Regions from separate parts of the Homo sapiens genome. Here regions 1 and 2 are each reported to be linked to region 3. The links are microRNA targets in miRTarBase. Many come from high-throughput screens and were not tested one by one. Region 3 holds a microRNA gene; each other region holds the end of a gene's coding sequence. Distances are from middle to middle.
Evidence for each region. Region 3 holds the annotated microRNA hsa-miR-6798-5p (CCAGGGGGAUGGGCGAGCUUGGG, at 4,614-4,636, opposite strand). A microRNA usually pairs through its seed, bases 2 to 8, with sites in the 3' UTR of a target mRNA and lowers its output. Matches are read on the target gene's strand: a 7mer-m8 pairs with bases 2 to 8, a 7mer-A1 pairs with bases 2 to 7 and ends in A, and an 8mer does both.

Region 1 (10,551 bases), not on the chromosome of region 3:
TCATATCTCTGAGAGATATAAAGCTGACAATATTACCAGGCCCTCCACATTACCTAACCTCAGAGAAAGAGAAAGAATATTGGGAGTTCAGTAAGATATGGAATATTTTTTATCAGGGATGGTTTTTGAATCTTCAGTCATTTCCCCTAATAATAGAAATGATATATGGCAAATATAAAACATTTTTAAATGAGCAAAGATACTACATTTATAAGAAAATTAAAAGCACTTATAATCCTATTATCCAAAGTATCCACTATTAAGAGTTTGGTACATGATTATCTAGGCGTTTCTTCTGTGAATGTATATAAATAAACATATATAAATGTTTAATACATGAAATCATATCACATATACAGTTTTCTATCTGCTTTTTAAAAATTTTCCATGGAAACCTTTCCATTGTTATATCCTCATCCTCATTTTAAAGGCTGTGTATTATTTCATGGTGTGGAGGAAATTTCAGGTATTTGTTACTAACCTGCTATTTTTGGGTATTCGGGTGATCTAGAGCGGAGATATTTAAATATTTTTAAAGTGCGTTTGGGATATGAATTCTAACACTCAGGCATCAGGCACCAGTGTACAATCAAGAGCCCTTCTCAGAAGGTGACAGAAGGTCCCCATGTCCCAGAATTAGCCCCCAAAAAACCCCAAAATAAAAAAGGGACCTTGATCCCCAGCTGAACTTTTCATGGGGTGACCTTGAGCAAGCTGTGTGTGCAGCCTTTGCTGGGTCTCCCCACCACAAAAGAGATCTCCAGAATATTCGAGGAAGGGCGGGGCTCCCAGGAGCAAAGCACACACTCTTTCTTGCGCAGCCCCCTGTGGACAGAGCTGTAACCTGGGCCCAGGGCATGCTCCCAGCCTGCAAATGGAGATGCTGCCTCATTTTTCTCTCTAAATCTAAACTTTATTATCAGCCCCTCTCCTACCCCAGGGAGTCCTGGCCAGCCCATCTCCCCACTCCCCTAGAGCTGTTGGGGTGTGAGGTCTCAGGCAAGGCCGAATATTCTGGGGTGAGAAAGGAGGGGAGGGTGGGATCTGGTCACCAAAGTGTCACCCACACACGTGGCTTCCAAGATGCCCATCACCTCGTTCCCTCCACGCCACCCCTGGGCCCCAGGGCTCTTTGCCAAGGCTGCCTGTGGCCACCACATCCCTGAGCCCTGCTGCTCTGGGGTCCACAAACTTCTCTTCTAAGGAAAAGATTCCATGGGGATGGAGGGATTCTTCAACCTTCCTGCTTCCTCCTGCCCAAACCCTCAGGACACAGGCTTTGTGGGAGCCCTCAGGTAGGAAGGAAGGTGTCTTGCAGGTGGCTTCAATTTTCCCCCTACCACAGACCCCCTCCAGACCAGAAGGACACACTTGCCTCTACTTGAATAGAGAAGGGAAGGAAAATCAGAGAGAAAAAAAATGAATATCCGAGCCCTTCTCCTGCCATAGTCTCTCCTCGGCAAGTCCAGGTCCTCAAAAGGACACTTTCTTTCCCTTTCCGGTCTCTACCCCACCCCCACACACCCAGCAAAAAATAGAGTGGGCTCCATGTTTCTCCCCCAGTGTGGATTTCTTGGATTCCCACAGGTGAAGCGCCTGCTCCTGCCTCTCTGGGGGTCATGTCTCCAGGCCCCCTGGGAGTGGGAGCCGAGTCTGTGCTGTGAACACCCCACTATCCCCCTAAGCGGGTCTCCTCTGGGAGAGGCCGCTCCACAGCCCCAGCTCCATGCTGCCCGGAGCTCCTGGGGCAATGTGGACCAGAGAATGATAGTGGGACTTCCTGGCTGAGCCCTTCAAGGTCTCCTTTGTCTCTCCTCCTTGTCCCCTCCCTCACAGGCCTGCAGCCCCACTGATCATCTTCCAGCCCTTGGCCCTGCCATGGCCACTCCGGCCTAGACAGCTGCTTCTCAGCAGGAGGTCTGTCCTTGACCAGGCTGAAAGGTGACCTCGGGGTCCTGTCCATCACCACCTTGTATGTCCATCAGCATTTATCAATAATCCCTAGTCACCTTGTTTGCATTCCTCGATCAGTTGACCTGCAAACTAGCTGTCTTGCTAGTTAACCTCACGAGGACTGGGGGTGGCTTGCCGGTCCCACTGTGTTCCCAGCTTCCAGAGTGACACTGCACCTAGTAGGCACTCAAATATCTGTGAAAGGGTGGATGAGTGAATGGGTTGGAGGAAACCCCTCCCTATTCATGTCCATTCTGAAGATAAGAAAACTCGCTGCTTCTACCTGAAGGGAAAACCTTCCTCCTCCAAAAACCCTCCTGTTCTATATGAGGCTTTAGAAACCAAAGGCAAGGACGTTTCTTTCATCTGCCTTTCATCCTGCAAAAAGCCCTCCACTCAAGGGAAGAAAGGGCACTGGAGTTTATTGAGTGGGAGACAGGCGGCAGGTGGGAGACGGGGAGGGAGGAGAGAAAGGGAAATTCAGGAGGAAGGAGTCCAGCGTGGATTGCTCCAAAGCTCACCCACCACGCCCTGACTGCAGGTGTGATTCGGGGCCCCCGTGGCTCTGCTGGGTCCAGGTGCAAGCAGGCACAGAGGTGCTGGCGTCAGCTCGATTCGCAGGCCCTGGACTCCTGTCTAAACAGGACAGGCCCGGGCAACCGCAGGGCAGGGGCGTCTGCCAATGATGGGGGAGGACTCTGCTGCTTCTTAAGCTCCAGCGTCTCAAGCCAGGGCGAGACAGCCCGCCGGCCGCCCGGATCTCCACCTGCCACCCCAGAGCTGGGACAGCAGCCGGGCTGCGGCACTGGGAGGGAGACCCCACAGTGGCCTCTTCTGCCACCCACGCCCCCACCCCTGGCATGGCCGACCAGCTGACTGAGGAGCAGGTCACAGAATTCAAGGAGGCCTTCTCCCTGTTTGACAAGGATGGGGACGGCTGCATCACCACCCGCGAGCTGGGCACGGTCATGCGGTCCCTGGGCCAGAACCCCACGGAGGCCGAGCTGCGGGACATGATGAGTGAGATCGACCGGGACGGCAACGGCACCGTGGACTTCCCCGAGTTCCTGGGCATGATGGCCAGGAAGATGAAGGACACGGACAACGAGGAGGAGATCCGCGAGGCCTTCCGCGTGTTCGACAAGGACGGCAACGGCTTCGTCAGCGCCGCCGAGCTGCGACACGTCATGACCCGGCTGGGGGAGAAGCTGAGTGACGAGGAGGTGGACGAGATGATCCGGGCCGCGGACACGGACGGAGACGGACAGGTGAACTACGAGGAGTTTGTCCGTGTGCTGGTGTCCAAGTGAGGCCGGCGCCCACCATGCTCCTGGGCGCCCACGCGGCCCACAGGGCAAGAACCCGGGGCCTCCCGCCTCCTCCCCCATCCCCCTGCCTCCCCTGGGCACTGTGGCTTCCTCCTGCGCCTGGTTGATTCAGCCCACCTCTCTGCATCCCGCTTCCCGCGTCTCTTCTCTGCACTCCTGCCGACCTTCCCACCTGCTCGTCTGAATGACACGGAACGCTCCCACTGCAGGCAAACCGTGACGCCCTCCCCACTCGGGAGAAGCAGAGCTGACCTTAGGACCGAGCACCAGGGCAGGTTGCGCTGACTCTGCGGCCCTCCAGGACGGACACCGGGTGACCCCTTAGGGCACCCAGGCAAGATCCCTAAGAGGCACCCAATGCCCAGGCCAGGGGGGCTGCAGCCCTCAGCCCCCGCCAGGATTCCCGCAGGCTCCTGGACTGGAAGCTCCCTCCGCGGTCGGATTCTGGAGGGTGGGAGGCATCTTGGCCTGCAGTAAGCGGTGCTGACGGGGACTCTGGCCACAGAGGTCAGGCCTCCTGAAAACAGCACTGCCTTCCGCGCTGCCCCAGCTTGCCCCATTCCTTGTCCGCCAACCCACCGTGATTCATCTTCTGAAGCTGGGAGTGAAACTGGGTCAGCTGTAACCTGTTCCTATTCATCTGGAAGGAGGGAGGCTTGGATGAGCAGGGGATGAGAGCTGCAGGGAAATAAATGAGATATTCGTCCTTATTTCATTTCCTTTTTTTTTTTGGTTTCCATGGAAATGATCCTTGTTAAATTCAGGGTTGAAACGAGGCAGGAATCTCCATTTTTGTGCTTTTTGAAAATGCAATGAATTCCTATACGGGGGAGCGGGAAAGGTGCCTCAGAGAGAGACAAGTCTGGATGAGGGAAATATTGAATATTCTCAATCAAATGGATACGCTGGCAGCAAAGAGTGGTTAAAAGTCCATCAGGACTTGAAAGACCTGAGTCCATTACGTTGAGAAGGGACCTGCTGATTGCTTTGATTCCCCCTGGCAAGTGCTCCCTGGTTGTGAAGTGCCAGGCACTAGAGATGGTGAGGGGTTGGGGGGCAGTTGGGCACACACAGTGTAAGAGCAATTCAGAGCCGTTAGTCCTGCACTAGCCCTGCAAGCTGCTGGCAACACCTAGAGAAGGTCGAAGGGGCCCTGCCAGAGATCCCTTCAATTCTAAAGGGAGGTATGTTTTGCGGGATGGGCACTAGACGGAGCTCATCAGAAAAGGCCATGGTGGATGTATCCTCTCTCCCTGACACCCCACCCCCGCCCACCAACACCCAGTGTTTCCTCCTTTGTAAAACAAAGAGCTGGGCCCCAGCCCCGGCCTTGCCATCATCACTGCACCACTGGGACCTCCAGGATGACAGGACCCTCATGCCACCTGCTTGGGCTCAGGGCACCATCAAGCACTTGGCCTGCATAGACAATTGGCACCTCCCTATGGGGCAGCCACTATTATTACCTTCCTCATCTTACAAACGAGGAAGTGGAGACACAGAGGGCTTTAGAAAGCAGCCCTGGGTCCCACCAGTGGGTAAGAGGCAGACCTGGGATTTCAGTCAGGTCTGTGCCCTGACCACTCAGCTACAGGTCTGACACCAACCTGTGCCTCCATCATGGTAACTACGGTAGCGCCTCTCTCCAGCACTTGTGAGGAGCCAGAACAACATTCTTAACACACCTGGCATGTAGTAGGTGCTTAATAATGGCAGCTACTGTTACCATCACCTTCAAGATCCCTTCCTGCTCTAATACTGCAAGACTGTCCAGGGTAGTCACCCCTCTCCATAGCTCGAGAACAAGACAAGAGCAGAAAGGGGCAGAAGCAGGTGCTCTGGGGCTGGATTCCTGAGGGGATGCTGGATGGTGGGGTGTCAGGTGAGCACTGGCCCAGGGCCGGTGTAACTGCAGGTACTCCTGTCAGGGGAACAGAAGCAGAGGGCAAGCTAAGGCTCAGCTTGCTGAGCAAATCCCCACCCCTCCCTGCCACTCTCAGGAGTCGGGGTTGATTGGACACGTCCTGGGGAAGATTTGGGAACAAGCCTCATAAACACATGGACAGAGTGTCTAGAGTTCATTGGGCAGCAGCACCCCAGGGGGTGGGGGGCTGTGAGCAGGAGGGGCAGGCAGAAGCCCCCACATGGCTGCTGACCGCCAGGCAAAAGGAATAGTACATCAGGCCTGAGTACCTTTTGTAGAATGTCTCCTAAATTCTGCAGGAAGGAGAGAAACCAAGGTCTCCCTGCACAGGGCATCTTTGTAGTCACTGTCATACACGTGGCTGAGGTTTGACATCTAAGCCCCTTCTTCCCAGGTGCAGGCTTGAGGCTCTTACAAGGGTTGGGACCTACGCACTGCCAATGCCTGGGCCAGGAGGGCACGCCAGTGTCTTTATTTGTCTTCCTCCCAGCCTCCCAGCGATTCCGCCAGGGCAGGTCTTTTTGCAACCCCACACACCAGTCATTCTGGAGCCACCTGGGCCTGGATTTTGCAGGTGCTGGGAGCCTTTCATCAAGAGCTCTTTGTGCTCAGGCAGGCACTGGCTGGGGTGGTGGAAAGGTCCTACCTGCTCTCAGCTTAGAACTGGCAGCCCCAGATCCTCCCTGAGGGGGAGTCCTCAGAAGCAGAGTAGTAAGTGGAGGTGTCTTTTTTTTTTTTTTTTTTTTTGAGACAGAGTCTGGCTCTGATCCCCAGGCTGGAGTGCAGTGGCGTGATCCCAGCTCACTGCAACCTCTGCCTCCCTGGTTCACGCCATTCTCCTGCCTCAGCCTCCCGAGTAGCTGGGACTACAGGCACCCACCACCACGCCCGGCTAACTTTTTATGTTTTTAGTAGAGATGGGGTTTCACCGTGTTAGCCAGGATGGTCTCGATCTCCTGACCTCGTGATCCGCCCGCCTCAACCTCCCAAATTGCTGGGATTACAGGCATGAGCGACCGCGCCTGGCCGGAGGTGTCTTCTTTATACAGACAGAAGCCAGAGGCAGCAAGGTCAAAGTGCGTCCTGTGGCAAAGGTGAATGACCCCTCCCCTCCCCCTTGGTGTTTAAACACATTTTTTTTTTTTTTGAGATAGGATCTTGCTCTGTCACCTAGGCTGGAGTGCAGTGGTGCAATCATAGCTCACTGCAGCTTCAACCTCCCAAGCTCAAGTGATGGTCCCACCTCAACCTCCCGAGCTCAAGTGATCATCCCACCTCGACCTCTAGAGTAGCTGGGACTGACGCGTGCCACCATGACCCACTAATTAAAAAAAAAAAATTGGAGGGGTGAGGTCTCTATGTTGCCCAGTCTTACCCAAACTCCTAGCCTGAAGTGATCCTCCTGCCTTGGCCTCCCAAAGTGCTGGGATTACAGGCACAAGCCACCGTGCCCGGCCCTGAATATGATTGTTCAGTAACATCTTCTGTCTGCCCTTCTCCTTGAAGCTGGGTCACTGCCCTCACCACAGTGAGCACCGTCTGCTGCCACATGGCTCTGCCCCCTCCCAACCTTCTGTGTTGGGGTAAGGAAGACCAGGCCAGAGGGGGACGCAGCTCTGACAGTGCTCTCTGGCACGGCTCCTTCTGCCTCACGGGGCGTGATGCCCAGGGAACCCCCTGCCCTCACCAGCAGACCCCAAACCCACAGTATGAATGCATCTCTCACCGGGCTAGCATTGCTGACCTCCACGGCATGGCATCAGCTACTCTGACTCAGTTCACCCACGGCAGTGAGTGTGTCCTCTCACACAACAGCCTCGGGATCCAGGTCTACCTAGGTCACACCTGGGCCTGTCTTTAGCTTCCTCCCCATCTCCCCTTATCTTATTTTCCCTTCCTTTTTCCCACCCTGGTCAGCACTTCCAAAGAGCCTGCCCCAAACCCAGATGTCAAGGTAAACTTTTTTGTTGGTAAAATGTGGTCACTCCAGCTGCCAGGGGTGGGTGCTCGCCTGTTGGACATAGGCAAGGGGAGGCCTGGGGGCTGGAGCAGGAGGAAGGAGCCACCCAAATGGGCAAACAGGGTTCTCCAGAGGGACCCAGCCCTGCGGGTGGAGCTTTCTTCCACCCTGTGTTTTTCTGTGGCAGAGACTTAGAGGCAGTTGCCCAACTGGCATATCCCTTTCTTTTCAGTCATTGAATAACCTAATTTAAACAACCTGCCCTCAGCCCCCAAAAAGGTGCAATCTGACTGCAGCTCAAAACAACATTCCAGCCATCCTAGGGGAAAGGAATTTATAAATATTACCTTGGCTTCCATGTGCTTTACTGAGCTCCCTCATAAATCAGGACTTGGGGCTCCTGCACTCCCAGACTATATAAAGCTCGCCTCTGACTCCCGTGTTTCCAATTTTAAATCGAATGCAGCCCAGCCCTGCCGGCTCCTGTTTATCCTCAAAGATTCCAAAGGCCTGTTCAAAGGCTCCCAGAACCAGCCAGCTAAAAATGACCCACGGCTTCCGCTAGAGAAATGTGGTATCAAAACTCGTGTATGGGGTGAGACTGCTCCATGAAGAATGGTAGCAATGGGGAATATGAGTTGTGTTTCTCCACCAAAAAACAAAGCTACATAAAGTAAAACAAGACCAAAAACCACCTCTGAGAAAGGTCTGGCCCCAAACCATGTGTCAATCTCCTCACCATCTTGCTTTTCTGGTAGTCATTTCCATAGCAACAGGTTCTCAGGGGTCTGGACTGGGCAAGAAAGGGAAGTGCCTGGGAAAGGCCTCCTCTGAGCCCTTTCTAACAGGGACAAGGCTGGGTGCTGAGTACTGGGTGGGACAAGCACCTTCCTCAAAGTGCAGGGAAGTGAGAAGCTTTAAATAGACCTAGAAACAATGGCAGGGTTTCCATAATTGGAGGAGAAAGTACCTATCGGAATAATAACAGAAGGAACCACATGCAGTCCCCTAAACACCTTCTTCAGGTCTTTCACGTCTTGTAGTGTGTGCGAACTACCCGGGAGGGGAAAGGAGCCAGGCTCTTAGGGAACATAAGGAGGGGAACATCTGAAGGGTGAATAGCAGGTGGGCCTAGGCCTCAGAGAGCCAACTGGGTGGCCCTGCACACCTTGGGGAGCTGAACATCCAGGGAGTGACTTCCTGAAGACTGACCACATGTGGCCCTGCTGGCCCATGGTGAAATTCATCTCCTGTCATCACTAGCCAAACCAGTCTCACCTATAGCCTACTGCACACCTGAAGACTCTGGTCTGAAGGCCCCCCATGATAGAAGCTCAGCCTTCACTGGGGCACACTGTCGGGAGGCACCTGTCTTGCATTTCATTAGCTCCTTTAATCCTCCAAACAAGTCAGTGCAGTAGCTTGTTTTAGCCTGTTTCAGAGAAGAAAAGACGAAGACTTTGAGACTTTGAATAACTTATCCAAGGCCATACATCTAGTGAATCAGAGTTTGACCCTGGGTTTGACCGACCCCAAAGCTCACACTATTCCCACTGTGCCAGAGAGGAGTTCTTAGAGCAAGGAGCCTGAAACCGAGAGGCGCTGAGCTCACAGAGGCGGTGAGTGCTGGAGAGATCTCGGTAGGAAAGGCCTGGAAGTGGGAAACAGCTGTCAGGCAGAATTTGTCTGGGCAGAGAGGACCTAGAGAAAAGAAAAGGAATTGATCGATGCCAGGAATATCCAGGAGCCACAGGACCCCTTGTGTCTGGGTGTGGGCATCTGCAGAGGGAGTGCTGGTGGACTGCCCACTTGCCACGTGAGACGTGATGTCTCACTGCCCCTCTGGCCCAGCACTGGACCCCATGCAGGTGCTGGGGCCGCTGCAGTCCCAGAAAACAAGAGGGAATCCTGCAGTGGGCACATCTTTGCGACAGGAGGTCCCAATCCGCTCCCTGCTCCACACACGCGCATCTGTCTGCAGCCAAAGTGCTACACGAACCTTCACCATTCATTATTGCAGAGCAGCTGGGAGGTGTTGGGCTTCTCAGCTTCTCATCCAAACTCACATCTCGGGGTGCAGGTGATGGGCAGTCAGAAAAAGCCACATGACCCTACTATGGTTGAATTGTGCCCCCTGCCTCCAAAAACTCATATGTTGAAGTCCTACCAACCAGGACCTCAGAACATGACCTTATTTGGAGATAAGTCTTTACAGGGATAATCAAGCTACAACGAGGTCATGAGAGTGGGCCTTCAGCCAATATAACCTTGTCAGGGTGGGACACGTGGACACACATGCCCAGAGGGAAGACAGTGTGACGACACAGGGAGAAGACAGCTGTCCACAGGCCCAGGAGAGAGGCCTGGAACAGCCCCTCCCCAGAGTCCTCTGGAAGGAACCCACCCTGCCAACACCTTGACCTTGGACTTCCAGCCTCCAGGACTGTGGATGAGACCTTCCTGTGGTTGAAGCATCTGATCTGTGGTGCTTTGTTATGGCAGCCCCCAAGCATCCACTGTAAGGGGGTCAGGTGTATTCACGGCCTCTCTCCCTGCTCCAAGGTCCACAAGGGCTGCTGGGGACTTGGTCCAGAGCCGTCCTTTGTCTGAGTCCAATTCTGACTTCATAGTGACTCCCCGGGGGATGCAGGGAGTCAGATCCACTTGATTCTGGAGAGGATCCAAGGGTAAAGGAAGGAGAAGGAGGGAAATAATCCCTTGAATATGGGAAACTGTCTTTTGACAAATTCTGGTGTGTCTTTCCAGACCGTAGATGCGTGGGTGGGATTCAAAGTCTGGCCCTGCCGAGGAGCAGCGGAGCATCCCAGGAAAGCCCCTGCTCTCCCAACCCCAGTTCTGCTGAGGAAGTGAAGGATCCTTGGAGGCGGCACAGCCATGCACAGGGTGTAACCGCCTGGGATGCAACCTGGGCATGAAGACAGCACAGACGTGGTACCGCAGGGCCCGAGGCTGGGTGAGAGTCAGGCTGAGATCAACGTTTGGGCTTGTAGACGCCTAGGTTTGCACAGCATCATAGAGGTTATCTGGCCTAATTTCCCATGCAGGATGAGAGGCCTATGAGTGATGACATCGTAAGCAATGGCAGGTGTGCACGACCTTGAATGCGACCATGGTAGGGAGGTCAAGGCAAGTTGCCCAAAGGTTGGAAAATTGCTATCCCCGGAAAGCTTTTCCTTAAACAGGTCTGAAAGGTGCCTCCATGTAACTGCCCCCACTGGCCCCTTTATTCTCTCTATGTTTGTGAGAGTCTAGAGCAGCAGCCCCTCTCCATGTGTCCACGTATTTGTGCCTCCGGCAGCAGCAGGTGCCTTCATGCTCCACATGGCCTCCTCTCCTCTCCAGGCTCTGTCCAGAGGTTCTTACCT
Region 2 (10,551 bases), 31 Mb from region 3:
CTGCACTCCAGCCTGGGCGACACAGCGAGACTCCGTCTCAAAAAAATAAAATAAAATAAAATAAAATGCCTCTGGAGTATGAAAATGTTTCTCTTCATTGAGCAGAAGTGTGGTGTTCTCTCCACCAAAGAAATATTTAAAGCAAATTTTAATTATGTCCTAATTCATTGTGTAATGTCTTCACTATTCAAATTTAATGTATTTCTTGCTGAAAGACTTGAGGTAGCTTATTATGCAACAAATTACTCAATTGGTTAGAAATTGGCCAGGTATTATCTATGAAATATTTGTACTGGTTTGAAGATAGTCCCTCTAAGTCATCAATGAAAAAATAAAATAATTTACAAAAATAAATGGAATGTAATCTACTCCATTACAGTTAAGCTCAGGATCCAGAGTTTGCTTTTGAATTCTAAAAAAAAAAATTGTTTAAAGCATAAAAAAAAAGATGCCAGTGGGGATGGGGCATGGTGGTTCATGCCTGTAATCCCAGCACTTTGGGAGGCCAAGGCAGGAAAATCACCTGAAGTCAGGCGTTCAAGACCGGCCTGGCCAAAATGGTGAAACCCCCTCCCTATCAAAAATACAAAAATTAGCTGGGCATGGTGGTGGGCGCCTGTAATCCCAGCTACTCGGGAGGCTGAGGCATGACAATCACTTGAACCTGGGAAGCAGAGGTTGCTGTGAGCTGAGATCGTGCCACTGCACTCCAGCCAGGGTGACAGAGCTGGACTTAGTCTCAAAAAAATTAAAAAAAAACAAAAAAGATGCCAGTGGGTTTCAGAAGCCAGAAAAGACAAAGAGAAGGATTCCCCCCTAGATCCTCCAGAAGAAACCAACCCTGCTGACTTGAATTTATTTTTACTTATTTATTTATTTTTAGAGATGGGGGTCTCACTATGTTACCCAGGCTGATCTTGAACTCCTGGGCTCAAACGATTCTCCTGCCTCGGCCTCCCGAGTAGCTGGGATTACAGGGTAGCTGGGATTACAGGTGTGTGCCACTGCACCCAGCTTGATTTTTTTTTTTTTTTTTTTTTGAGACAGAGTCTTGCTCTGTTGCCCAGGCTGGAGTGCAATGGCCCCTATCTCAGCTCACTGCCACCTCCGCCTCCCGGGTTCTCCTCAATTCTCCTGCCTCAGCCTCCCAAGTAGCTGGGACTACAGGTGTGTGCCACCATGCCCAGCTAATTTTTGTATTTTTAGTAGAGATGGGATTTCCCCATATTGGCCAGGCTGGTCTCGAACTGCTGACCTCAAGTGACCCACCCACCTCAGCCTTCCAAAGTGCTGGGATTATAGGCGTGAGCAACCGCACCCAGCCTCAGCTTGATTTGACATTAGCCCAGTGAAACTGATTTCAGAATTCTGGCCTTCAAAACCATACAAGAATACATTGATGTTGTTTTAAGCGACTAAGTTTGTGGAAATGTGTTAGAGTAGCAATAGGGAACTAATAGCCAATAGACCAACTGAAGGGTGTCCCCATGAATAAGAATCACTTTACAATTAAAAATAGCATTCATAAAATAAAGGTGCCAGGTGCAGTGGCTCATGCCTGTAATTCCAGCATTTTGATAAGCTGAGCGGGGAGGATTGCTGCAGCCCAGGAGCTCGAGACCAGGATGGGCAACATAGCAAGACCGTCATCTCTACAAAAAATAAAAAATTAGCTGGGCATAGTGGCTCATGTCTGTAGTCCTGGCTACTTAGGAGGCTGAGGTGGGAAGATCACTTAAGCCTGGGAGCTTGAGGCTGCAGTGAACCATGATTGCACCATTGGACTCCAGCCTAGGCAACAGAACGAGACCCTGTCTCAGAAAATAGTAATAATAAAATTTTTACAAAGACAAGAAAAGTATACATTGTGTGTGTGTGTATTTAGAAAGTTCCAGAAGGAAGGATGAGGTTCTCCTGAAGGTGCAGAGGTCAAAAGCAACACCAGAGTTACATAACTGTTTGGGGGCCTTCAAAATAAAATTTAATTCCCAGGCATCACCTCCAAGTTCTTTTTTTTTTTTTTTTAGATGGAGTTTTGCGCCCAGGCTGGAGTGCAATGGCACGATCTCGGCTCACTGCAACCTCTGCCTCCCCAGTTCAAGCGATTCTCCTGTCTCGGCCTCCTAAGTAGCTGGGATTACAGGCATGCGTCACCACGCCCAGCTAATTTTTTTGTATTTTTAGTAGAGACAGGGTTTTGCCATGTTGGTCAGGCTGGTCTCGAACTCCTGACCTCAGGTGATCCTCCCGCCTCGGCCTCCCAAATTGCTGGGATTACAGGTGTGAGCCACTGCACCCAGCTACCTCCAAGTTCTAATCCTTTAGTCTGTGAGCAGAGCCTGCGAATCTATGCTTTATTCAGATAAATTTCATAGTAAAGGAAGCTTCACTTCGTACCACAGAGAAGATCCTTCTAAAGACTCATGTCCCCAAGAGGCTGAAAGGAATTGGGTACAGGGATTCTTTTTTTATTTTTATTTTTTCGAGACAGGGTCTCGCTCTGTAGCCCAGGCTGGAGTGCAGTGGTACAATCACTGCTCACTGTAGCCTCAACCTCGTAGGCTCCAGCAATCCTCCCATTTCAGCCTCCCGAGGCTGGGGGGCACAGACACGTGACAACACACATGGCTAAGTGTTTCTATTTTTTTGTAGAGACAGGGTTTTGCCCAGGCTGGTCTCAAACTCCTAGGGTCAAGTGATCTGCCTGCCTCAACCTCCCAAAGTGCTGGGATTACAAGCACGAGCCACCATACCTGGCCGGGTACAGGAATTCTTAGTCTCAGCACTATGAACATTCTGGACTGGAACGTTCTGTATGGTGGGGCGTCCTGGCCATTGTAGGATATTTAGCTGCATCCTCCTGCATAGGATGTACAATGTAGGATGGTGTTAGCATTGTAGGATGTTTAGGGGACATTGCCAAATGTCCCCTGAAGAACAAAATTACTCCTGGTTGAGCCTCACTGGGTTAAATAAGATTTAGAAACTTCCCTGCAAAGCATGAGAAAAAAATCTTTCACAGAAGGGGCTGGGTGCGGTGGCTCATGCCTGTAATCCCAGCACTTTGGGAGGCCGAAGCGGGAGGACCACCTGAGGTCAGAAGTTTGAGACCAGCCTGGCCAACATGGTGAAACCCTGTTTCTACTAAAAGTACAAAAACTAGCCGGGCATTGTGGCAGGCGTCTGTAATCCCAGCTACTAGGGAGGCTGAGGCAGGAAAATTGTTTGAACCCAGGGTGGGGGCGGAGGTTGCAGTGAGCCAAGATCATGCCACTACACTCCAGCCTGGGCGACAGAGTGAGACTCTGCCTCAAAGAAAAAAAAATGTTTCACAGAAGGGACTGTTTAATAAACATGGATAATTCACTCTGGCCAATAGATGATGAATAGTTAGGATTCAATAAGAAAAAGGAATATGATAGCCTCTACTGAAACCTGAAGTGCACATCCAGGTTAATCCAGGAATCCCACCTGTCTCAATTTACCCAACTGAAATTTTAAAATCCAGTAGGAAGCCAGGTGCAGTGGCTCACGCCTGCAATCCCAGCACTTTGGGAGCCAAGGCGGGTGGATCACTTGTAGTCAGGAGTTCAAGACCAGCCTGGCCAACATGGTGAAACCCCATCTCTACTAAAAATACAAAAATTCTCCAGGTGTGGTGCGGGCGCCTGTAATCTATTACTCAGGAGGCTGAGGCAGGAGAATTGCTTGAACCCAGGAGGCGGAGGTTGCAGTGAGTCAAGATCGTATCACTGCTCTCCAGCCTGGGTGACAGAGTGTGACTCCGTCTCAAAAAGCAAAACAAAACAAACAAAAAAACACAAAAAAACAAAAAATCCAGTAGGAAAGATGTATTGTATAATGCTATCCACTGCAGGAAACAGCAGGGAATATTTTCCATAACAATCCAAAAAGAGCTCGTAGATGTTAACCCTATTTTGGAAAGGAGGTCCACAATAGTTGTTAAATTTAAAAATAAAAGTTGTTTTTTAAAAAATAGGTACAGTTTGATCCCATGCTTAGAAAATAAAAGTGCATTCCACGAAAAATAAAACGGCAAGTTGCAGTAGCTTAGGTAACATGGTCCTCCTTTTTTAAAAAATGCATATATATTTACACCATGCAAATAAGGAAGGCTGGAAAGTTTTTGAAAATGTTAGTTGTGTCTGAAAAGGTGTGATTTAATTTTTGCTTTGTCAATTTGCTTAGCTGTAAGTTCTGATTTTTTCCACACTGATTGAACACCATCAGTGTTAGGGTTTTTTGTTGTTGTTTGTTTTTTGTTTTTTGAGACAAGAGTGTTGCTCTGTCGCCCAGGCTGGAGTGCAGTGGCGTGATCTCGGCTCACTACAACCTCCGCCTCCCAGGTTCAAGTGATTCTTCTGCCTCAGCCTCCAAGTAGCTGGGACTACAGGCGCTCACCACCATGCCCAGCTAATTTTTCTGTATTTTTAGTAGAGACGGGGTTTCACCATATTGGCCAGGCTGGTCTCGAACTCCTGACCTCATGATCCACCAGCCTCGGCCTCCCAAAGTGCTGGGATTACAGGTGTGAGCCACCGCGCCTGGCCCCTGTGTTAGTTTATAAAAGTCTCGGGTATATTCTTGCACACCCTAAAGGTGTAATAATCCAGAGGATTTGTAAGCATTTGACCCAGAAAATCCAAATGCAACTGGGCATGTTGTAATGTCCAGCCCCCTCTCCCTGGGGTGGGACCACTCTTTCCCTTCTTGTCTCACTTCCCTACTGCTCCACAGCAAGTTCCTGGGGTCACTGATAACGTAAGTGCCCTTCAATCCTCATCTTGGAGTCTGTTTCAGGGGACCCAAACCATGACAGCCCCTCCTCATTTGAAGTCATCTGCGACGATCCTGTGGTTGATCCAAGATAGAATGAAGTTGGCCACCTGTCCCTGGGCTATTTCAGGGAAGTTTTCTGGTTTTGTTTTATAGAAACAGGGTCTTGCTCTGTTGCCCAGGCTGGAGTGCAGTGGTGTGATCATGGTTCACTGCAGCCTCAACCTCCTAGACTCAAGAGATACTCCTGCTTCAGCCTCCTGAGTAGCCAGATTACAGGTGTGCCCTACCATGCCCAACTAATTTCTCAATTTTTTTTGTAGAGACGAGGGTCTCACTCTGTTGCCCAAGCTGGTCTTGAGCTCCTGACCTCAAGCAATCCTCTCACCTCCTCAACCTCCCAAAGCATTGGGATTATAGGAGTGAGCCACCTCACCCAGCCTAATCCTTTTTTTTTTTTGAGATGGAGTCTCATTCTGTTGCCCAGGCTGGAGTGCAGTGGCAAGATTTCAGCTCACTGCAACCTCCACCTCCTGCGTTCAAGCGATTCTCCTGCCTCAGCCTCCCAAGTAGCTGGGACTACTGTCACACACCACCATGCCTGGCTGCTTTTTGCATTTTTAGTAGAGACGGGATTTCATCTTATTGATCAGGCTGGTCTCGAACTCCTGACCTCAGGTGATCCACCCACCTTGGCCTCCCAAAGTGCTGGGATTACAGGCGTGAACCACCATGCCCAGCCCTAATCCTCATGTTGAGGTCTGTTTTAGGGGGACTCAAAGCACGACAGCCCCTCTTTATTCGAAGTCATGTGGAAGGATCCTGAAGTTGACTCAAGACAGAGCTGTCGGTCCCCCGCCTGTTTGGGGGAAGTTTTATGGCATGAGGGGACACAGGGCTCTTACCACACCCTCACCCCACAGTAGCTCCACTGGCCAGCTTTTTTTTTTTTTTTTTGGTTTGATTGTGTCTTGCTCTGCCGCCCAGGCTGGAGGGCAGTGGCTCAATCTTGGGTCACTGCAACCTCCACCTCCCAGGTTCAAGCGATTCTCCTGCCTCAGCCTCCCAAGTAGCGAGGATTACAGGTACCCCCCCCCCGCCACCCCGCCCCACTACACTAGGCTAATTTTTGTACTTTTAATAGAGAGGGGGTTTCACCATGTTGGCCAGGCTGGTCTTGAATTCCTGACCTCAAGTGATCCGCCCACCTTAGCCTCCCAAAGCACCGGGATTACAGGCATGAGCCACCATGCCAGGCCCCACTGGGCAGCTTCCCTACTGCACCTGCCCTGGTTTCCTCCCAAATCTTGTCGGCCATCCAGGGGTGGGGAACGTGGGCAGTGTTTTGGTGCCGAGCAAAATCCCACAAACTGCTGTGAAAACCAACCAGGAACATTTATTAAAAAACTAAGCAAGTTATCCCCAAGAGGGTGAAGCACCGCTGGCTGGTTCTGACATTCGATTCAGGCTGAAGGCACGGCAACTCCTCCAGCCCTTGCTGGGAAATGTCCTACCCAGGCCACGGGCAGTGCCCCAGTGCAGCTGGGTCCCCTAAAAGCCCCCAAACACATGATCCCACCAAAGGCTTGAACAGAGCAACTTCATCAAGCAGGCAGGGACCACACCTGAGACACAAGGGCAAGGAGGTAAAGCACAGGGGACCGGGAGTGGGCCAGGGACACCCAGCCCCCGTCTCCAACTGGCGCCCCCTCCAGGGGGGCTAACATGTGGCGTGGGGCCACCAGGACCTGTGCTTGCCCCTGGTGGCGGAAGAGCTACCCTCCCTCTTGGGTGGTGGGGGGATGTTGTCTGCACACAGCTCAGACGACCGAGGGTACAGGAAGAATCAAACTCAGTCAACCATTCTTCAACCCAACTGGGAGTCTGTGAGGCCTGGCACACAGGTGCTCAATAAACACTTGTGGCATGAAGAAGTGAAGGAACCGATCTTGTTCATCTCTGTGCCCCAGCACTCGGCATGTAGCCCATGATCGAAAATGCAGACTGAACAACTGTCACACTCTTTTGTATCACTAGTGCCCGGCACACAGTCAGTGCTCTTCAGGTGTGTGGGAAAGAAGCCAATGAGTGAGAAGTTCCCACACCGTCTAGCAGTGAGGAAAAAAAGAAAAAAGTAAAAAGTACCTTGTTTACTCCCATTCCCATCCCATAGCTCAGCTCCCTGCACACAGCAGGTGCTCAGTAAGTGTACCGAATCAGGAACTTATCTTTGTGACATGAGTGCCAGGCACACAGTAGGTGACCAATATGTGCTTGAATAAATGGATAGAAGCATCTTATTTATCTCAATATTCCCAGAGCCTGGGCTGGGCACAGTGGCTCATGCCTGTAACCCTAGCACTTTGGGTGGCCAAGGCGGGCAGATCACTTGAGGTCAGGAGTTCGAGACCAGCCTGGCCAACATGGTGAAACCCCGTCTCTACTAAAAATACAAAAACTAGCCAGATGTGATGGCACGCACCTATAGTCCCAGCTACTTGGGAGGCCGAGAAACAAGAATTGCTGGACGCTGGGAGGCGCAGGCTGCAGTGAGCCGTCACACCACTGCACTCCAGCCTGGGTGACAGAGACAGACTCTACTCTTAAAAAAAAAAAAAAAAAAATCCCAGAGCCTGGAATGGCACCCAACACACAGTAGGCACTCAATAAATCCTTGAATGAATTTTAAAAATGAATGTGTATCACTAGTGCCTGATTCTTAATCTGATCAGTAACTGCTTGATGACTGAATCAATCGCTGATGGAGGGAACAATTATGCCTCATTCACTGCCGTAACATGGGAACCTTGCATACAGCAGGTGCTTAATAAATGCTGGGCACATGAACAGATGAAGAGGGCTTGGTTCCTCCCAATTCCCCAGGGCCAAGCCCTGTTGCTGGCATGCAGTAGGCACTCCATTAATGCTGCCTGTGTGCACGTGATTGCTTAGCAAGAGCTGGCTGGACACCACCCCACACGAGAGCCCTCTGTGGCCTGCCAAGGGGTCCAGAGGTGGACCTGATGTCCTCAGTAAGCACGTGGAGCCTGGGCCACCGATGGCTGCTTTGGCTTTCTGGCTGCTACCCCTCAGAGTTCATCCCGGGCAGCACTGTCCAGTGGGGACTGGAGCACGTCCGAGTTCTTGGCCTCACGGCTCAGTGCCTGCTGCTCCCGCATCTTCTGGGACTTGGCGCGGTCCCAGTCGGTCTTGACGTGCTCATTGTTCCATACGACTGAGGTCTCGGTGTCACTCACATAGCCATCGTCTCCTGTGTAGTGTGTGGGGTAGATGAGCAGCGGCTCCACAGAGAAGGCATGCAGGTTGCGGAGGGAGAAGTGGGCCTTGTACTCGGACCTGGGGGGAGGAGGAGGGGAGTGAGGGGCAGCAATGGCTTCAGGGGACGGGACAGCTGGAGGAAAAATTGGGGGTGAAGAAGTCAGCGGGGACAGATTAAAACGTAAGTGTGCAGGGGATACAAATGGAGACAGATCTGCGAGGGGGCAAACGGAGGGAGAAGTAGGCAAAAGAAGAGACATCTTCTCGGAGGCCGTGAGTCTCACATCCCCATTCTCCCAGGACAGACCCACCGTGAAACCCCAGCCCAGCAGCCGCCTGCCCCTCTCACACTGGGTGTTTGTCGAACATGACGGGCAGGAACTCGTCCACAGGCAGCATCTTGGAGAGCGGCTCAGCAGCCAGCAGTTTGCGGGCGCCTTGCAGGGAGATCACGTAGGCCAGGGTCCAGTAGGAATAGTCGGCCTCCACCAGGTTCCTCACGCGAGGCACAGCCTTCTCGGGGTGCTCCACCTGCATCCGCTTCCGGCCCACATAGCTGGGGTGCAAGATCGGGCCTGTCACTCTCCTCCCGCCCTCCGGAGGGAGCTTGCCCAGAAAGCCAGGGATCTAGTTACCCCGTCAGGTCCTGGGATGGGAGCAGGCTCAGCATGTTTGCAGAGCTCTGTGACTGGATGGAGTGAATGCAGGAGCCCAGGGGTCTGGCGGTCATGGGGGAGAAGAGTGAGTTTTTCCAAAGGGCGTGAGGGAGCCATGGAGGATCTGGAGCTGGGGAGAGCAGGATCACGCAGACGTTCTCTGAGGCTGAAGCTGCTCTGAGTTCAGAGGACAGTGGGGGTGGAGGTGGGCGAGGTGCCCTGATGGGGGGGCAGTCAGGAATGGAGGGGTGCAGTTACTATTCACATGGGGCAGTGTTCCCAGAATGCAGATTAGGGCACTGCACATGGAAGGGAAAAAAGAGATGGAGGAAGGGAGAGGACAAACCAGCCCACTTACAGAAGAGAAGGACGGCTCCAGTGCTGGAAACATGTTGGTGGCACTCCCATCCAGGGGCTTGTCTAAGACCAGGCGCCCTGGCCACGCCCCCACACTCTTCGGCCACACCTCCAGCTCTGACCACACCCCCATGCTCTTCAGCCACGCCCACAGGCTGCCCGGTCAAATTTTAGCCACATCCACCTCCACAGGCCTCAGTCAAGTCTCTAAGCCTTGACCAAGCCTGCAGGCTTCCGGCCAGGTCCCTTGAGTTCTGGGTGATCCTTCCAACGCCCTTCCCTATAGGCTACAGCCCTGACAGTGCCTTCAGGCCCAGGAACCACGTGAGCCCTCCTGCTACGCTTCCAAGGGTTGGCCACGCCTGCCACCCTGACCACACCCAGACATACAGGCTCTAGGCTCAGCTGCAGCGCTGTGGCCACGCCCGTAGGATTCAGCTCCACTCCGCCTCCCAGCCCCACCTCTAAGCCCTGGCCATGTACCTAGGCTCCAGTTCCACCCCACCTTCAAGCCCCGCCTCTAAGCCATGACCCATCCCCAGGTCCCAGCTCCACCCTGCCCCCACCCCCACCTCTAAGTCCTGGCCTTGCCCCAGGCCCCAGCTTCACCCCATCCTCAGACCCCCACTCACATGAGGTCCCAGTCCAGGCCCTCCCGCTCCACATCCCGCATGAGGTTCATCAGACGTCTCTTGAAGAAGATCTCAAAACGCAGGTCATCCTCAAACACAAGCGATTTCTGCAGCCCCCGGTCCACCACCTGAGGGAGGAAGCCCCGCCACATCACAGGGAGGCCAAGGCCAGGCCTGACCCTAAAGCACAGAGCTTTGCTTTGAGAAGGTTTGAAAGACCCGTAGAGAAGCCAGTGCATCTCCCTGCCTCTCCTAGCTCCAGGGACATCTGGACATCCAAACCTCTGCCCTCTGCCGTCCATAATGGATCTCAGAAGAGAAAGGCCTCCCAGCCCCTCAAATGCCCACGCCTCATGCACCTCCCGCCTTGCAGCCGCACACCCCCATTTGGCTTCACATTCGATAACAAGTTTTTCTTTTCTTTTTCTTTTTTTTTTTTTTTGAGACGGAGTCTCGCCCTGTCGCCCAGGCTGGAGTGCAGTGGAACGATCTCAACTGCAACCTCCGCCTCCCAGGTTCAAGTAATTCTGCCTCAGCCTCCTGAGCAGCTGGGATTACAGGCATGTGCCACTACGCCCGGATTTTATTTTTCTTTTTTTGAGATGGAGTGTCACTCTTGTCGCCCAGGCTGGAGTGCAATGGCATGATTTCAGCCCACTGCAACCTCTGCCTCCTGGGTTCAAGTGATTCTCCTGCCTCAGTCTCCCAAGTAGAGGGATTACAGGTGCCCACCACCACACCCAGATAATTTTTGTATTTTTAGTAGAGTCTAGGTTTCACCATGTTGGCCAGGCTGGTCTTGAACTCCTGACCTAAGGTGATCCGCCTGC
Region 3 (10,551 bases):
AGCAGCCGGTCCAGCAGGTCTATGGGGATGCCGTGAGGGCTCTGGTAGCTGGTGCCCCGGATTCTGAGGAAGAGGCAGAAAGAGGGGGCTGTCAGGGGCATGTTCCCTCTTCATTCCCTTTGCTGGGAACACTCTCACCTCCCATCGCCACCCACTCACTGGGCCCAACACCACTTAACCTTTAGCTCGCGTCTCCTGTCACATGATGACATCACCCCTGATGACGCAGCCTTCCACAGCTGCGTCAGTCCCCCAAGGGCACCTTTCCGCGGAGCTGGGCTGCTTTAAGCTAGATCTCTGCCTCCAGGATTACTGGATCAAGGTCCCACTCCCGTGCTCGACACAAAGCTTCACAAAGGAGGGGACTGCACCTGTCTTGTTCCCTGCTGCAGCGGGGCCAGCCCAGGGCTGGTGCCAGGGGATACAGTCAGTTCCCCTTATTCACAGTAGTGAGGTTCTAGAAAGTCATCGTGAACACTCCAATTAGCTGATCCTGAGCCACTGCTCCTACTGGAATACAGGGTTAGGCTCTCTCGAGCCTCGGCTTACAGTATTTTCATCAATCCATATATATATAATCTGGGTCTATGCGTATTTTCATTTGTGTGTTTCTGGTCTTTTTGGTTTGTTTTTTGAGACGGAGTCTCGCTCTGTTGCGAGGCTGGAGTGCAGTGGCGCGATCTCGGCTCACTGCAACCTCCGCCTCCCGGGTTCAACCGATCCTCCTGCCTCAGCCTCCCAAGTAGCTGGGTCTACAGGCGCACGCCATCACGCCCAGCTAGTTTTTTCTATTTTTAATACAGACAGGGTTTCACCATGTTGGCCGGGACGGTCTCATTCTCTTGACCTCGTGATCCACCCACCTCGGCCTCCCAAAGTGCTGGGATTACAGGTGTGAGCTACCGCGCCTGGCCTCATGTATGTGTGTTTCTATTTCCATGTGTTTGTTATGTAACATCACTGTTTATTCTCTAACATGGAGCTCGTGTCAACAGCATTCTAACTTGGGCTCAGCGAAGCGTCTGTAACATGGCATTTTCTCCGTCAGGCTTCACAGCCTCCTTGCACTTAGGATACTAGACAGCACTTCAACACTGTGCACAGGGGACACTTTAAATGGCAATATCACCAACAAATGGCCCCAAAAAGTTTAAAAAAAAAAGGCACAAAAAAAGTGACAACACTTTGGGAGGCTGAGGCGGGTGGATTGCTTGAGCCCAGGAGTTTGAGACCAGCCTGGGCAACATGGCAAAACACCATCTCTACAAAAAAAAAAAAAAAATTAGGCCGGACGCGGTGACTCACCCCTGTAATCTCAACACTTTGGGAGGCTGAGGTGGGCAGATCACGAGGTCAGGAGTTCGAGACCAGCCTGGCCAATATGGTGAAACCCTGTCTCTACTAAAAATACCAAAATTAGCTGGGCATGGTGGCGGGTGCCCATAATCCCAGCTACTCAGGAGGCTGAGGCAGGAAAACTGCTTGAACCCAGAAGGCAGAGGTTGCAGTGAGCCGAGATCGTGCCACTGCACTCCAGCCTGGTGACAGAGCTAGACTCCGTCTCAAAACAAAAACAGAAATTAGCTAGGCATAGTGGTGCATGCCCGTGGTCCCAGCTGATGAGGAGGCTGAGGCCAGAGGACTGATTGAGTCCCAGGGGTGGTGTGTGTGTGTGTGTGTGTGTGTGTGTGTGTGTGTGTGTGGTGGGCACTGAGGCTGCAGTGTGCCATGATCGTGCCTCTGCACTCCAGCCTGGGCGACAGAGCAAGACCCTGTCTCAAAGAACAAAAGTGACAAACGTAGCACTAAATAGAATACAACAAGGACACTTATTTACAGCATGAGCGCTAAGGGAGCAGGCAGTGTTGCCTCGTTCACACTCAGCTGGGAAAGTGGGTGTCAGGTGACTTGAATTTGTTGCCGAAAGCAGGGCAGATATTTATTTGGGGATTACAAATAAATCTTAGCAAGCGAGATTCTCAGATACAGAGTCTACGAACAATCAGGGCTGCCCGTAGCTGCTGCCTCCCACAGGAGGTGCCCCTGGGCAGTCCCCAGGCCCTGACCTGCAGTTTCTGTGAAAACACCATCAGCCCTGGGGGTCTCTTCCAGTGTCCAGCCATCCAGAGACCAAATTACGGCCCTGCTACCTTCTAGACTTGTGACCTGGGCAAGTCACTGGGCCTCACTGTCCTGCCCTATAAAATGGGGCTGAGGTGATATCTACCTTCTGAGCTTCTTCTGCGGATCCAAGGAGTTAAAAGAGCCAAACACAGAGCCAGGCCCAGCGGCCCAGCATCCTCTGTAGGGTGCCCGCTTCTTCCCTTTTGTGATGCCCATCCCAACCGCCCAGTTTCAGCTGGGCCCAAGGCTGCAGGGCTGGAGCTGACAGTACCCAGCCTTCTTTGCCACCAGGTACAGCACTGAGCCCAAGCAGTGCCGGGCAATGGAATGGGGGTGCAAGGTTGGGGTGCAGCCTGTGGATCACAGCCTATGGGGGCTGCCTGCCCTCCACATCCCCCTGCTTCCTGCGGGCCAAAATGTGGCGAGGTGGAGAAGACAGCCAGCGGGCATGGTGGCAGGTGCCCGTAATCCCAGCTACACAGGGTGCTGGCAACACCTGGGAGACGAGGTTCCCAGGCTTCAGCACAGCACAGTACCCTCTGTGTCACAGGAATCTGTCCCCGGCATCCTCAGGCCAAACACAACATTAAGAGTTCCCCGTGCACAGGGTGCTGGCAACACCTGGGAGATGAGGTTCCCAGGCTTCAGCAGAGCACGGTACCCTCTGTGTCATGGGAATCTGTCCCTGGCATCCTTAGGCCAAACACAACGCTAAGAGTTCTGTTAATGGAGTTGCTGGGTCGAAGTGACTGAACAATCGTAGTTTATGTTATGTCTAACAGATGTCACTGTGCTTCCCTCAAGACTAGAAAACATCCCACAGCACTCCTGTGAGTTTCCTGCAGCACCCTGGGGTGCCTCGGCACGCAGTTTGAAGACTGCAGCCTTGGGGGCTAAAGGAGCAGCAAGACAGAAAGGCAGCAAGAACACAGTCTCTGGGCTTCCTCGGGAAGCAGAGCTGCCTCCCACCCGCCTTTTGTAAGCAAAGAGCGCACACTGCAGTCACGCGTCCCTCCCTGACCCGGTGTCAACACAGGCTCCCATTGACCCTCTGACCACACCCACTGCCCAGAGCATCCTGTTTTCCCCAGAGGCCCCTGTAGCCGGCTCACCGCGTGATGCCACGGTTGGTGGCCATGATCAGGACAGGCGCCATGTCACTCTCCAGGGCCCGGTTGAGGAAGGAGAAGCTCTCGATGTCCAGCATGTGGACCTCGTCGATGAACAGCACCTTGGATTGGGGTGTGTGTGAGAGTCACCACCCGCGTCCCCACTTCCCCGGCCCACCTCCACCCCACCACCCGCCCCGGCCATGTCCTGGGTCCTCACTCCAGGGATGATCTCCGCCTTGCCCTCCTCGCGCCACTCAGCCACCTTGGCATTGATCTGCTCACGGACTTCTGACTTGATCTCCCCTGTGTCACCTATGGGAGGCACAGGTTGCATCAGGGAAGCCAGAGAGGAGGCGGGTTCCAGGGCCAGAGTGTGGCTAAGACAGAGAAGGATGATGCCAGGGATGGAGGAAGGGGAGCAAAGCAAGGAGGGATGAGGAGCCTGAAACATCCCCAAAGAGGAGGAACAGAGGCAGAGAACACAGGAGGGGAGAGGGCAGGGCCACACCCATCACAGCACCAGCAGGGGTGGGGACGGAGCGGACTTGCAGGTGGAGAACAGAGGCAGCCACGGGCCGGAGTTACAGGAAACAGCGTGGAGCAGGTGGGCCACACTCGGAGCTCAGGAACAGAGGGAGCCCGAGGGAGGCTGCTAGGCCTGGGGCAGGGCAGGGCAGGGCAGGGCAGGAGGGGCCTCACCTGAGAAGAGCGCCAGGAAGCCCTGGGTGCGAGAGTTGATGACGTCGATCTCGTGCAGGGACACGGTGTGCACCACCTCCTTGCGTTTCTGGAGCTCCCCATCTGGGCACTGCACGAACTTGGTCTATGGGGCGGGGGTGGGGGAAGAACGGCGGAGACAGGGCAGGGAAGGGCATGAAGGGGGCCCCTAAAGCCCTCTGTCTGGGGGAGACTGGAGCTCCAGGAAATGGAGCTGGGAGGCTAAATGGGGTCATCTGGAAACCCCAGGCCCAGGAGGTAGTCAGGACTAGGGACATTCCAGAGCGCTGAGGGTCACGGGGGCTCCCGGAGGACCTTAGAAGCCACAGGCCACATGTGGCCATGCGAAGCTATAGTGCCAGGCTGAGGGGCCCTGCTGTCCTAGGGTTACAGGGAAGACCCAGGAGTACCAGGACAAACAGTCAGGGTAACAGGAAGATCCAGACCCCATGGGTCAAGGGGGTGATGGAGGAGATGAAAACACCCCAGTGCTGGGGGCGAGGGGATCCCGGGAGTCCCGGCCGCACCTGGGAGCCCATAGCGTCGTAGTCGCGGGCGCGTGTGAAGGAGCGGCCCAGCTTGGAGATCTTGCCCGTCGCCTTGTCGATGGTGATCACGTCCCTACAGGGGGATGGGGGGTAGGGTAAGGAAAGGAATGGGCCCAAGCTCGCCCATCCCCCTGGCTGCCTGGCATGGCCCCTGACTGCTCACCCGGCCTGGACCTTGTCCTTGGTCAGGGACTCAATCATCTTGGTGCCCAGGTCGTAGATGGTCTCCATCTCTGTGGTCTTGAGGGTCAGTTTGCCCACCTTGGAGCCCTGAGAGTGGGGACAAGCCAGGGATGGGGCTCAGAGAGGGCCCTGATGTTGCCCCAGTGCCCCCAGTGTTGATAAGCTTCTGGCTCTGCTCTGGCCTCTGCTTCCACAGCTTCAAAATGGGCACAACACAAGGAAGCTCTCCAGGGAAGACATACGGTGCGCTCACCAGCCTGACGCGGTGATGGCTCCGCGGCTGAACATGTATGTCCCAACGGACCATACTGGACACTTGCAATGTGTACAGCTTTCTGTATGTCAATTAAAACTCAATAAAGTTCTTTTTTTTTTTGAGACGGAGTCTTGCTCTGTCGCCCACGCTGGAGTGTAGTAGCATGATCTCGGCTCACTGCAAGCTCTGCCTCCCGGGTTCACGCCATTCTCCTGCCTCAGCCTCCCGAGTAGCTGGGACTACAGGCGCCCGCCACCACGCATGGCTAATTTTTGTATTTTTAGTAGAGATGGGGTTTCACTGTGATAGCCAGGATGGTCTCGATCTCCTGACCTTGTGATCTGCCCACCTCGGCCTCCCAAAGTGCTGGGATTACAGGAGTGAGCTACTGCGCCTGGTGAATAAAGCTCTTTTTTTTTTTTTTTTTTTTTTTTTTTTTTTTTTTTGAGATAGAGTCTTGCTCTGTCGCCCAGGCTGGAGTGCAGTGGTGTGATCTCAGCTCACTCCAACCTCCATCTCCCGGGTTCAAGTAGTTCTCCTGCCTCAGCCTCCCAAGTAGCTGGGATTACAGATGTGTGCCACCATACCCAGCTAATTGTTTTGTGTTTTTATTATTTATTTATTTTTGAGATGGAGTTTCGCTCTTGTTGCCCAGGCTGGAGTGCAATGGTGTGATCTCGGCTTACTGCAACTTCTGCCTCCCAGATTCAAGCGATTCTCCTGCCTTAGCCTCCCAAGTAGCTGGGATTACAAGCACCCACCACCACGCCCAGCTAATTTTTTGTATTTTTAGTAGAGACAGGGTTTCACCATGTTGGTCAGGCTGGTCTTGAACTCCTGACTTCAGGTGATCCACCCGCCTCGGCCTCCCAAAGTGCTGGGATTATAGGCATGAACCACCGCGCCCAGCCATTTTGTATTTTTAGTATAGACAGGGTTTCACCATGTTAGTCAGGCTCGTTTCGAACTCCTGATCTCAAGTGATCGCCCACCTCAGCCTCCCAAAGTGCTGGGATTACAGGTGTGAGCCACTGCGCCTGGCCAAAACTCAATAAAGCTCTTAATAAAAATAGTAAACAGGCAGGGTGCAGTGGCTCACACCTGTAATCCCAGCACTTTGGGAGGCCGAGGCGGGCAGATCACAAGGTCAGGAGATCGAGACCACAGTGAAACCCCGTCTCTACTAAAAATACAAAAAATTAGCCGGGCGTGGTGGCAGGTGCCTGTAGTCCCAGCTACTCGGGAGGCTGAGGCAGGAGAATGGCATGAACCCGGGAGGCAGAGCTTGCCGTGAGCTGAGATTGTGCCACTGCACTCCAGCCTGGGCAACAGAGCAAGACTCCATCTCAAAAAAAAAATTATAATAAAATAAAATAAAAATAAAAAATAAAAATAGTAAACAAACAACATGCCTAAAAAATAAAGTCTATCAAAAACAACATAGGCCCGAGGTCTCGCAAAATTGCCAAATGTCACACTTTGACATTCCTATTTTATACCCAAATAAAAAGTGTTTTTGTTGATCACAAAATCAGAAAACACAGCTATGCAAAAAGGAGAAAACAGAAATTGTAAAAAAAAAAAAAAAAAAAAAAAAAGAGGCCAGGTATGGTGGCTCACGGCTGTAATCCCAGCACTTTGGGAGGCCAAGGTGGGCAGATCACGAGGTCAGGAGTTCAAGACCAGCCTGGCCAACATGGTGAAACCCCGTCTCTACTGAAAGTACAAAAATTAGCCGGGCGTGGTGGCATGCACACACCTGTAATCTCAGCTACTCGGAAGGCTGAGGCAGAAGAATCACTTGAACCTGGGAGGCAGAGGTTGCAGTGAGCCGAGATTGCACCACTGCATTCCAGTCTGGGGGACAGAGGGAGACTCTGTCTCGAAAACAAAAAAAAAAGAGAGAGCAAATCACCTGTATCATGTAAGATGGACAGGACATGCCTTTCGGCCACGGAACGAGTTTTGAAGTCTGTTGGGTTTTGAGGTCTGTTGGGAACTCACTAACAGATCTCTCTCATTATTTTACCGCCTCAGTTTCTATTGCCCATAATGTCCTTCATAAGGGGATAAGCCATTGTCAAGTTAACTGACCTCCTACTGTAGGCATGTACATGGCTCTAGTCTGCAGCTAGAACATTCCATGGGATTCTGACCTCAGTGCAGACCTGATATCTACTCTCTCCAACCCTGGCGCTGGAGGTGGCCTCAGCAGGGTACAGACTCACACAGACTCACCGTCCCTGTTGCTGGTCGATCAATCTGGATCTCCACCACCTCCCCTTCGATGATCTCCGTCTCCTCCCTAGCCAGAGAGCAGATCTGAGGAGACAGCCTGACACCTGGACCCTCGGGAATCACAACCTTCCATGAGCTCTGGGACAAAGGACGAGCCGCCCGGGGTGCGGGGTTGCTCCCAGGCTCTGGGGTCTGGCACCCGCCTCGGGTCCCCCGCTTACTTGATGCGAACGCCGATGGACCGCCGGAAGGCCTGCGTCAGCGCCTCGGTCTTGCTCATCTCCAGGGAGAAGATTTCACTGCCGGCGATGGCTGTGAATGGCGTGTCAGGGCCCAGGGCCTGCGCCATGCCTGGGAAGGAGGCAGTCTGTGTAGGTGAAGCCGCTCTGGCACCAGGTCCCCGACACCTGCTCTGTGGCAAACTAGCTTTTCTCCCACCCCAGGAAAGAGGGTTCAGTGCCATCCTACATGTAAGGACTTGGCTCCGAGCTGAGCAGAGCGCTGGGGAGGGGGAACTGGAGAGCGGGGTTCAGCCATGAGGCAGACAGTGAGTGAGAAGCCAGGCAGGGCAGGTTGCTCCGGCAGGCCTGGCTTAGAATCCCACATTGCCCAGAGGGTACACCCTAGAACCTCGCCACACCTCAGTCTCCCAGCCTCTACGAGCTGTTTAGCCTCAGAGCTGGACGAAGGGGACCAGGGACGAAGGCCAAGGAGCCCACACGATAGCTACAAGTGATGAAGGCAGACTGCCTCGGCTCCCATCCCAGATCCACCACTTAAGTGCAGGTGGCGCCGTGGGATCTTGAGCGATCTGAACTGCTCCCTGAGCCTCAGTCTCCCCCTCTGTCTAATGGGGATGATAACAGAACACGTGCCAGCATGGGATGACACCCTGCTTAGGAGTGACTATGGGCAGGCAGGCAGGCAGGCACTGGTGCTCAGCAGTAACACGGTTGCGCAGCCTGAAACTGGCACAGGGCAGGACGCTCTACCGCCGGTGGCCTGGGGTGGCTGGCAGGAAGCAGGTCTGTCTCCAGCAATAGCTCTGAACGCCAGACCTTTCCTTCCAGTTCCCTGGCCACAAGGTTTGGTCCAATGTGGGGCACGCCCTTTCAGACAGGCTGACACCACACCCTCCTGCCCAGTGTCAAGTGGGACCTGTTCTTAGTCCTCTTTGCGGATACACAATGGCCCTCATCACAGAACTCAGCAAGTATCTGCTGAGGGCTGAGTGGACGAGCACGGCCCATGCCATCTGGGGACACCAGGGGTCCTCTCTGCCTCTTTCACTAGACTAAGAAGCGTCCCCGCCAGGGCGAGGCTAGCCTCACCCCAGTGCTGCCCAGCACAGGGTTTGGCCTGCAGGAGGCCTGCGGGAGACACAAGAAGAGGAAAGGCGAGGCCGGGCACAGTCACAACATGCCTAAAAAATAAAGTCTACAGGCTCCCGCCTGTAATCCCAGCACTTTGGGAGGCCGAGGCAGGGGGGTGGATCACCTGAGGTCAGGAGTTCGGGACCAGCCTGGTCAACATGGTGAAATCCCATTTCTACTAAAAATACAAAAATCAGTTGGGTGTGGTGGCACACATCTGTAATCCCAGCTACTTGGGAGGTTGAGGCAGGAGGATCACTTGAACCCAGGAGGCAGAGGTTGCAGTGAGCGAAGATCACACCACTGCACTCCAGCCTGAGCGACAGAGTGAAACTGTCTCAAAAAAAAAAAAAAATGAAGAAGAGTAGGAAAGCAGAAAGGATGGAGGGAAGGAAGTTACTGTGTGTGCCACATTCTGGGCCTGGACATGCTGTCCCCAGTGTCCGCCCAGGAGCCTCCTGGCCATCCTACTAGGCTTAGCTCAGGTATCCGCTTCTCTGGAAGCCTCTAGCAACAAATGCCACCACATGCCCCGTTTTCCTACCAAGGTCAGGAGCCTCCTCTGTCACATGCTACCTGCATTGTAACACATGTCGCCTTGGAAGGGATCGTGTCCATGACCACCTCCTCCAGACCAGGAGCTCTTTGAAGTCAGGCCTTGGTCTAACTCATCTATGGGTCCCCAGTGTCCAGTCCGAGCACCCCAACAGGCACTGCTTTATCTTCACTGAAGACCTGGCTGTTACTCTGATTCTCCCTGCCTGGCCCCAGCCTCAGCACAGAGGTGGGAGTGAGTGGGAAGAGCAGTGGGTTAGGAAAAGCTTCAATGGGGCAGAGATGCTGAAGTAGGGTTTTGAAGGATAAATAGGAGTTCAACAAGGAAGAAGAGGAACAGCTGGGAGTGAAAAGATCATAAACCACTAGCGGACTGCAACAAAGACTGCTGGGTGACTCCTCAATACCCACCTTCCCCTTCTTCCTTAGTTCTAGAACCCTCATTTTCTTTCCTGTTTTTTTTTTTTTAATTTTTTATTTTTACAACAACCTTTTGCCCAACAGAAGAATCCTCATTTTCTTAAGGCAAAAATGGTCCAAATTATGAAATTTTAAAAAACATTTAATGTGCCAGCCTCCCCTGAAGCAGAGTGTGATCATATGATTACATTCTAGTCAATGAGATAATGAGATATAAGCAGAAGCATGGAGGATTTCCAATGACTGTTTAAAGGAAGCCAACTCGAGGGGGTTCATCCTCATGGCAACTCCTTTCTTCCTGCTGCCTGGGTTATGAGTGGGAAGGCTGGAGCTCTGGCAGCCCTCTTGGAACATGGCGTCCTCTTGACTGGAACCAAGTGCAGAGGATGGTGAGGCAGGAAGATGGAAGACTTCCTGGAACTGCTTAATAAGCCCCAAATGGCCTACCTCTAGATTCTTCCATGGGCAAGAATGAATCCTGAGTGTTTAAGCCACTGCCATTTTGGGTCATCTGTTAAAGGCGGCTCATCCTGACCCTGACTTACACAGGAGGAGTTATTTAGCAGGAAACAGGAGAGTTCCTGCCCTGGGAGGTTTCTTACCCATGGCGATGGCCGTCTTCCCCGTGCCCGGCTGGCCAGCAATAAGGACTGCCCGACCGGCAATCTTCCCTTCCCGGATCATCTCCAGCACCACGCCAGCCGCCCGCCGTGCCGCCAGCTGACCCACCATGCCTTGCGAAGCCTGTGGGTGGGAGGCGCACATGAGGTGATTTCCTGTGGGGCTACCATGGCATTTCTACCACATCAGGAAGCTAGTGAGATGGAAGCAGACATTACTAGCTGGGACTTCTAGGAAAAGCCAAAAAAGCTTTCCCTGCTTTTTTTTTTTTTTTTTTTTTTTTTGAGACAAGATCTCGCTCTGTCACCCAGGCTGAAGTACAGTGGTACAATCATGGCTCACTGTAGCCTTGACCTCTAGGGATCAAGAGATCCTTCCACCTCAGCCTCTTGAGTAGCTGGGAC

Region 1: the mRNA of CALML3 is a reported target of hsa-miR-6798-5p. Seed matches in the 3' UTR shown: 7mer-m8 at 3,342-3,348 and 7mer-m8 at 4,275-4,281.
Region 2: miRTarBase lists COLGALT1 as a target of hsa-miR-6798-5p. Seed matches in the 3' UTR shown: 7mer-m8 at 6,510-6,516.

Annotation. Positions count from the first base shown.
Region 1 is chr10:5,522,273-5,532,823 of GRCh38, forward strand. It overlaps CALML3 (calmodulin like 3), which reads left to right and starts at 2,689. Exons shown (of 1, transcript NM_005185.4): 1 at 2,689-4,499. The coding sequence starts at 2,814. The coding sequence ends at 3,263. It overlaps CALML3-AS1 (CALML3 antisense RNA 1), which reads right to left and starts at 3,974. Exons shown (of 3, transcript NR_120497.1): 1 at 3,861-3,974. RefSeq lists enhancers at 2,994-3,693, 3,694-4,394.
Region 2 is chr19:17,578,780-17,589,330 of GRCh38, reverse strand. It overlaps COLGALT1 (collagen beta(1-O)galactosyltransferase 1), which reads right to left. Exons shown (of 12, transcript NM_024656.4): 10 at 9,722-9,849; 11 at 8,426-8,632; 12 at 6,174-8,154. The coding sequence ends at 7,887. Among named protein-coding and RNA genes, the nearest start is that of COLGALT1, 28 kb to the right of the region's middle. RefSeq lists enhancers at 9,097-9,391, 9,226-9,435.
Region 3 is chr19:49,003,996-49,014,546 of GRCh38, reverse strand. MIR6798 (microRNA 6798) reads right to left here and starts at 4,641; the gene lies at 4,575-4,641. It overlaps RUVBL2 (RuvB like AAA ATPase 2), which reads right to left. Exons shown (of 15, transcript NM_006666.3): 4 at 10,129-10,270; 5 at 7,400-7,529; 6 at 7,179-7,245; 7 at 4,665-4,771; 8 at 4,481-4,574; 9 at 3,936-4,059; 10 at 3,454-3,548; 11 at 3,237-3,355; 12 at 1-63. RefSeq lists a silencer at 2,609-2,783 and enhancers at 4,606-5,107, 9,720-10,219.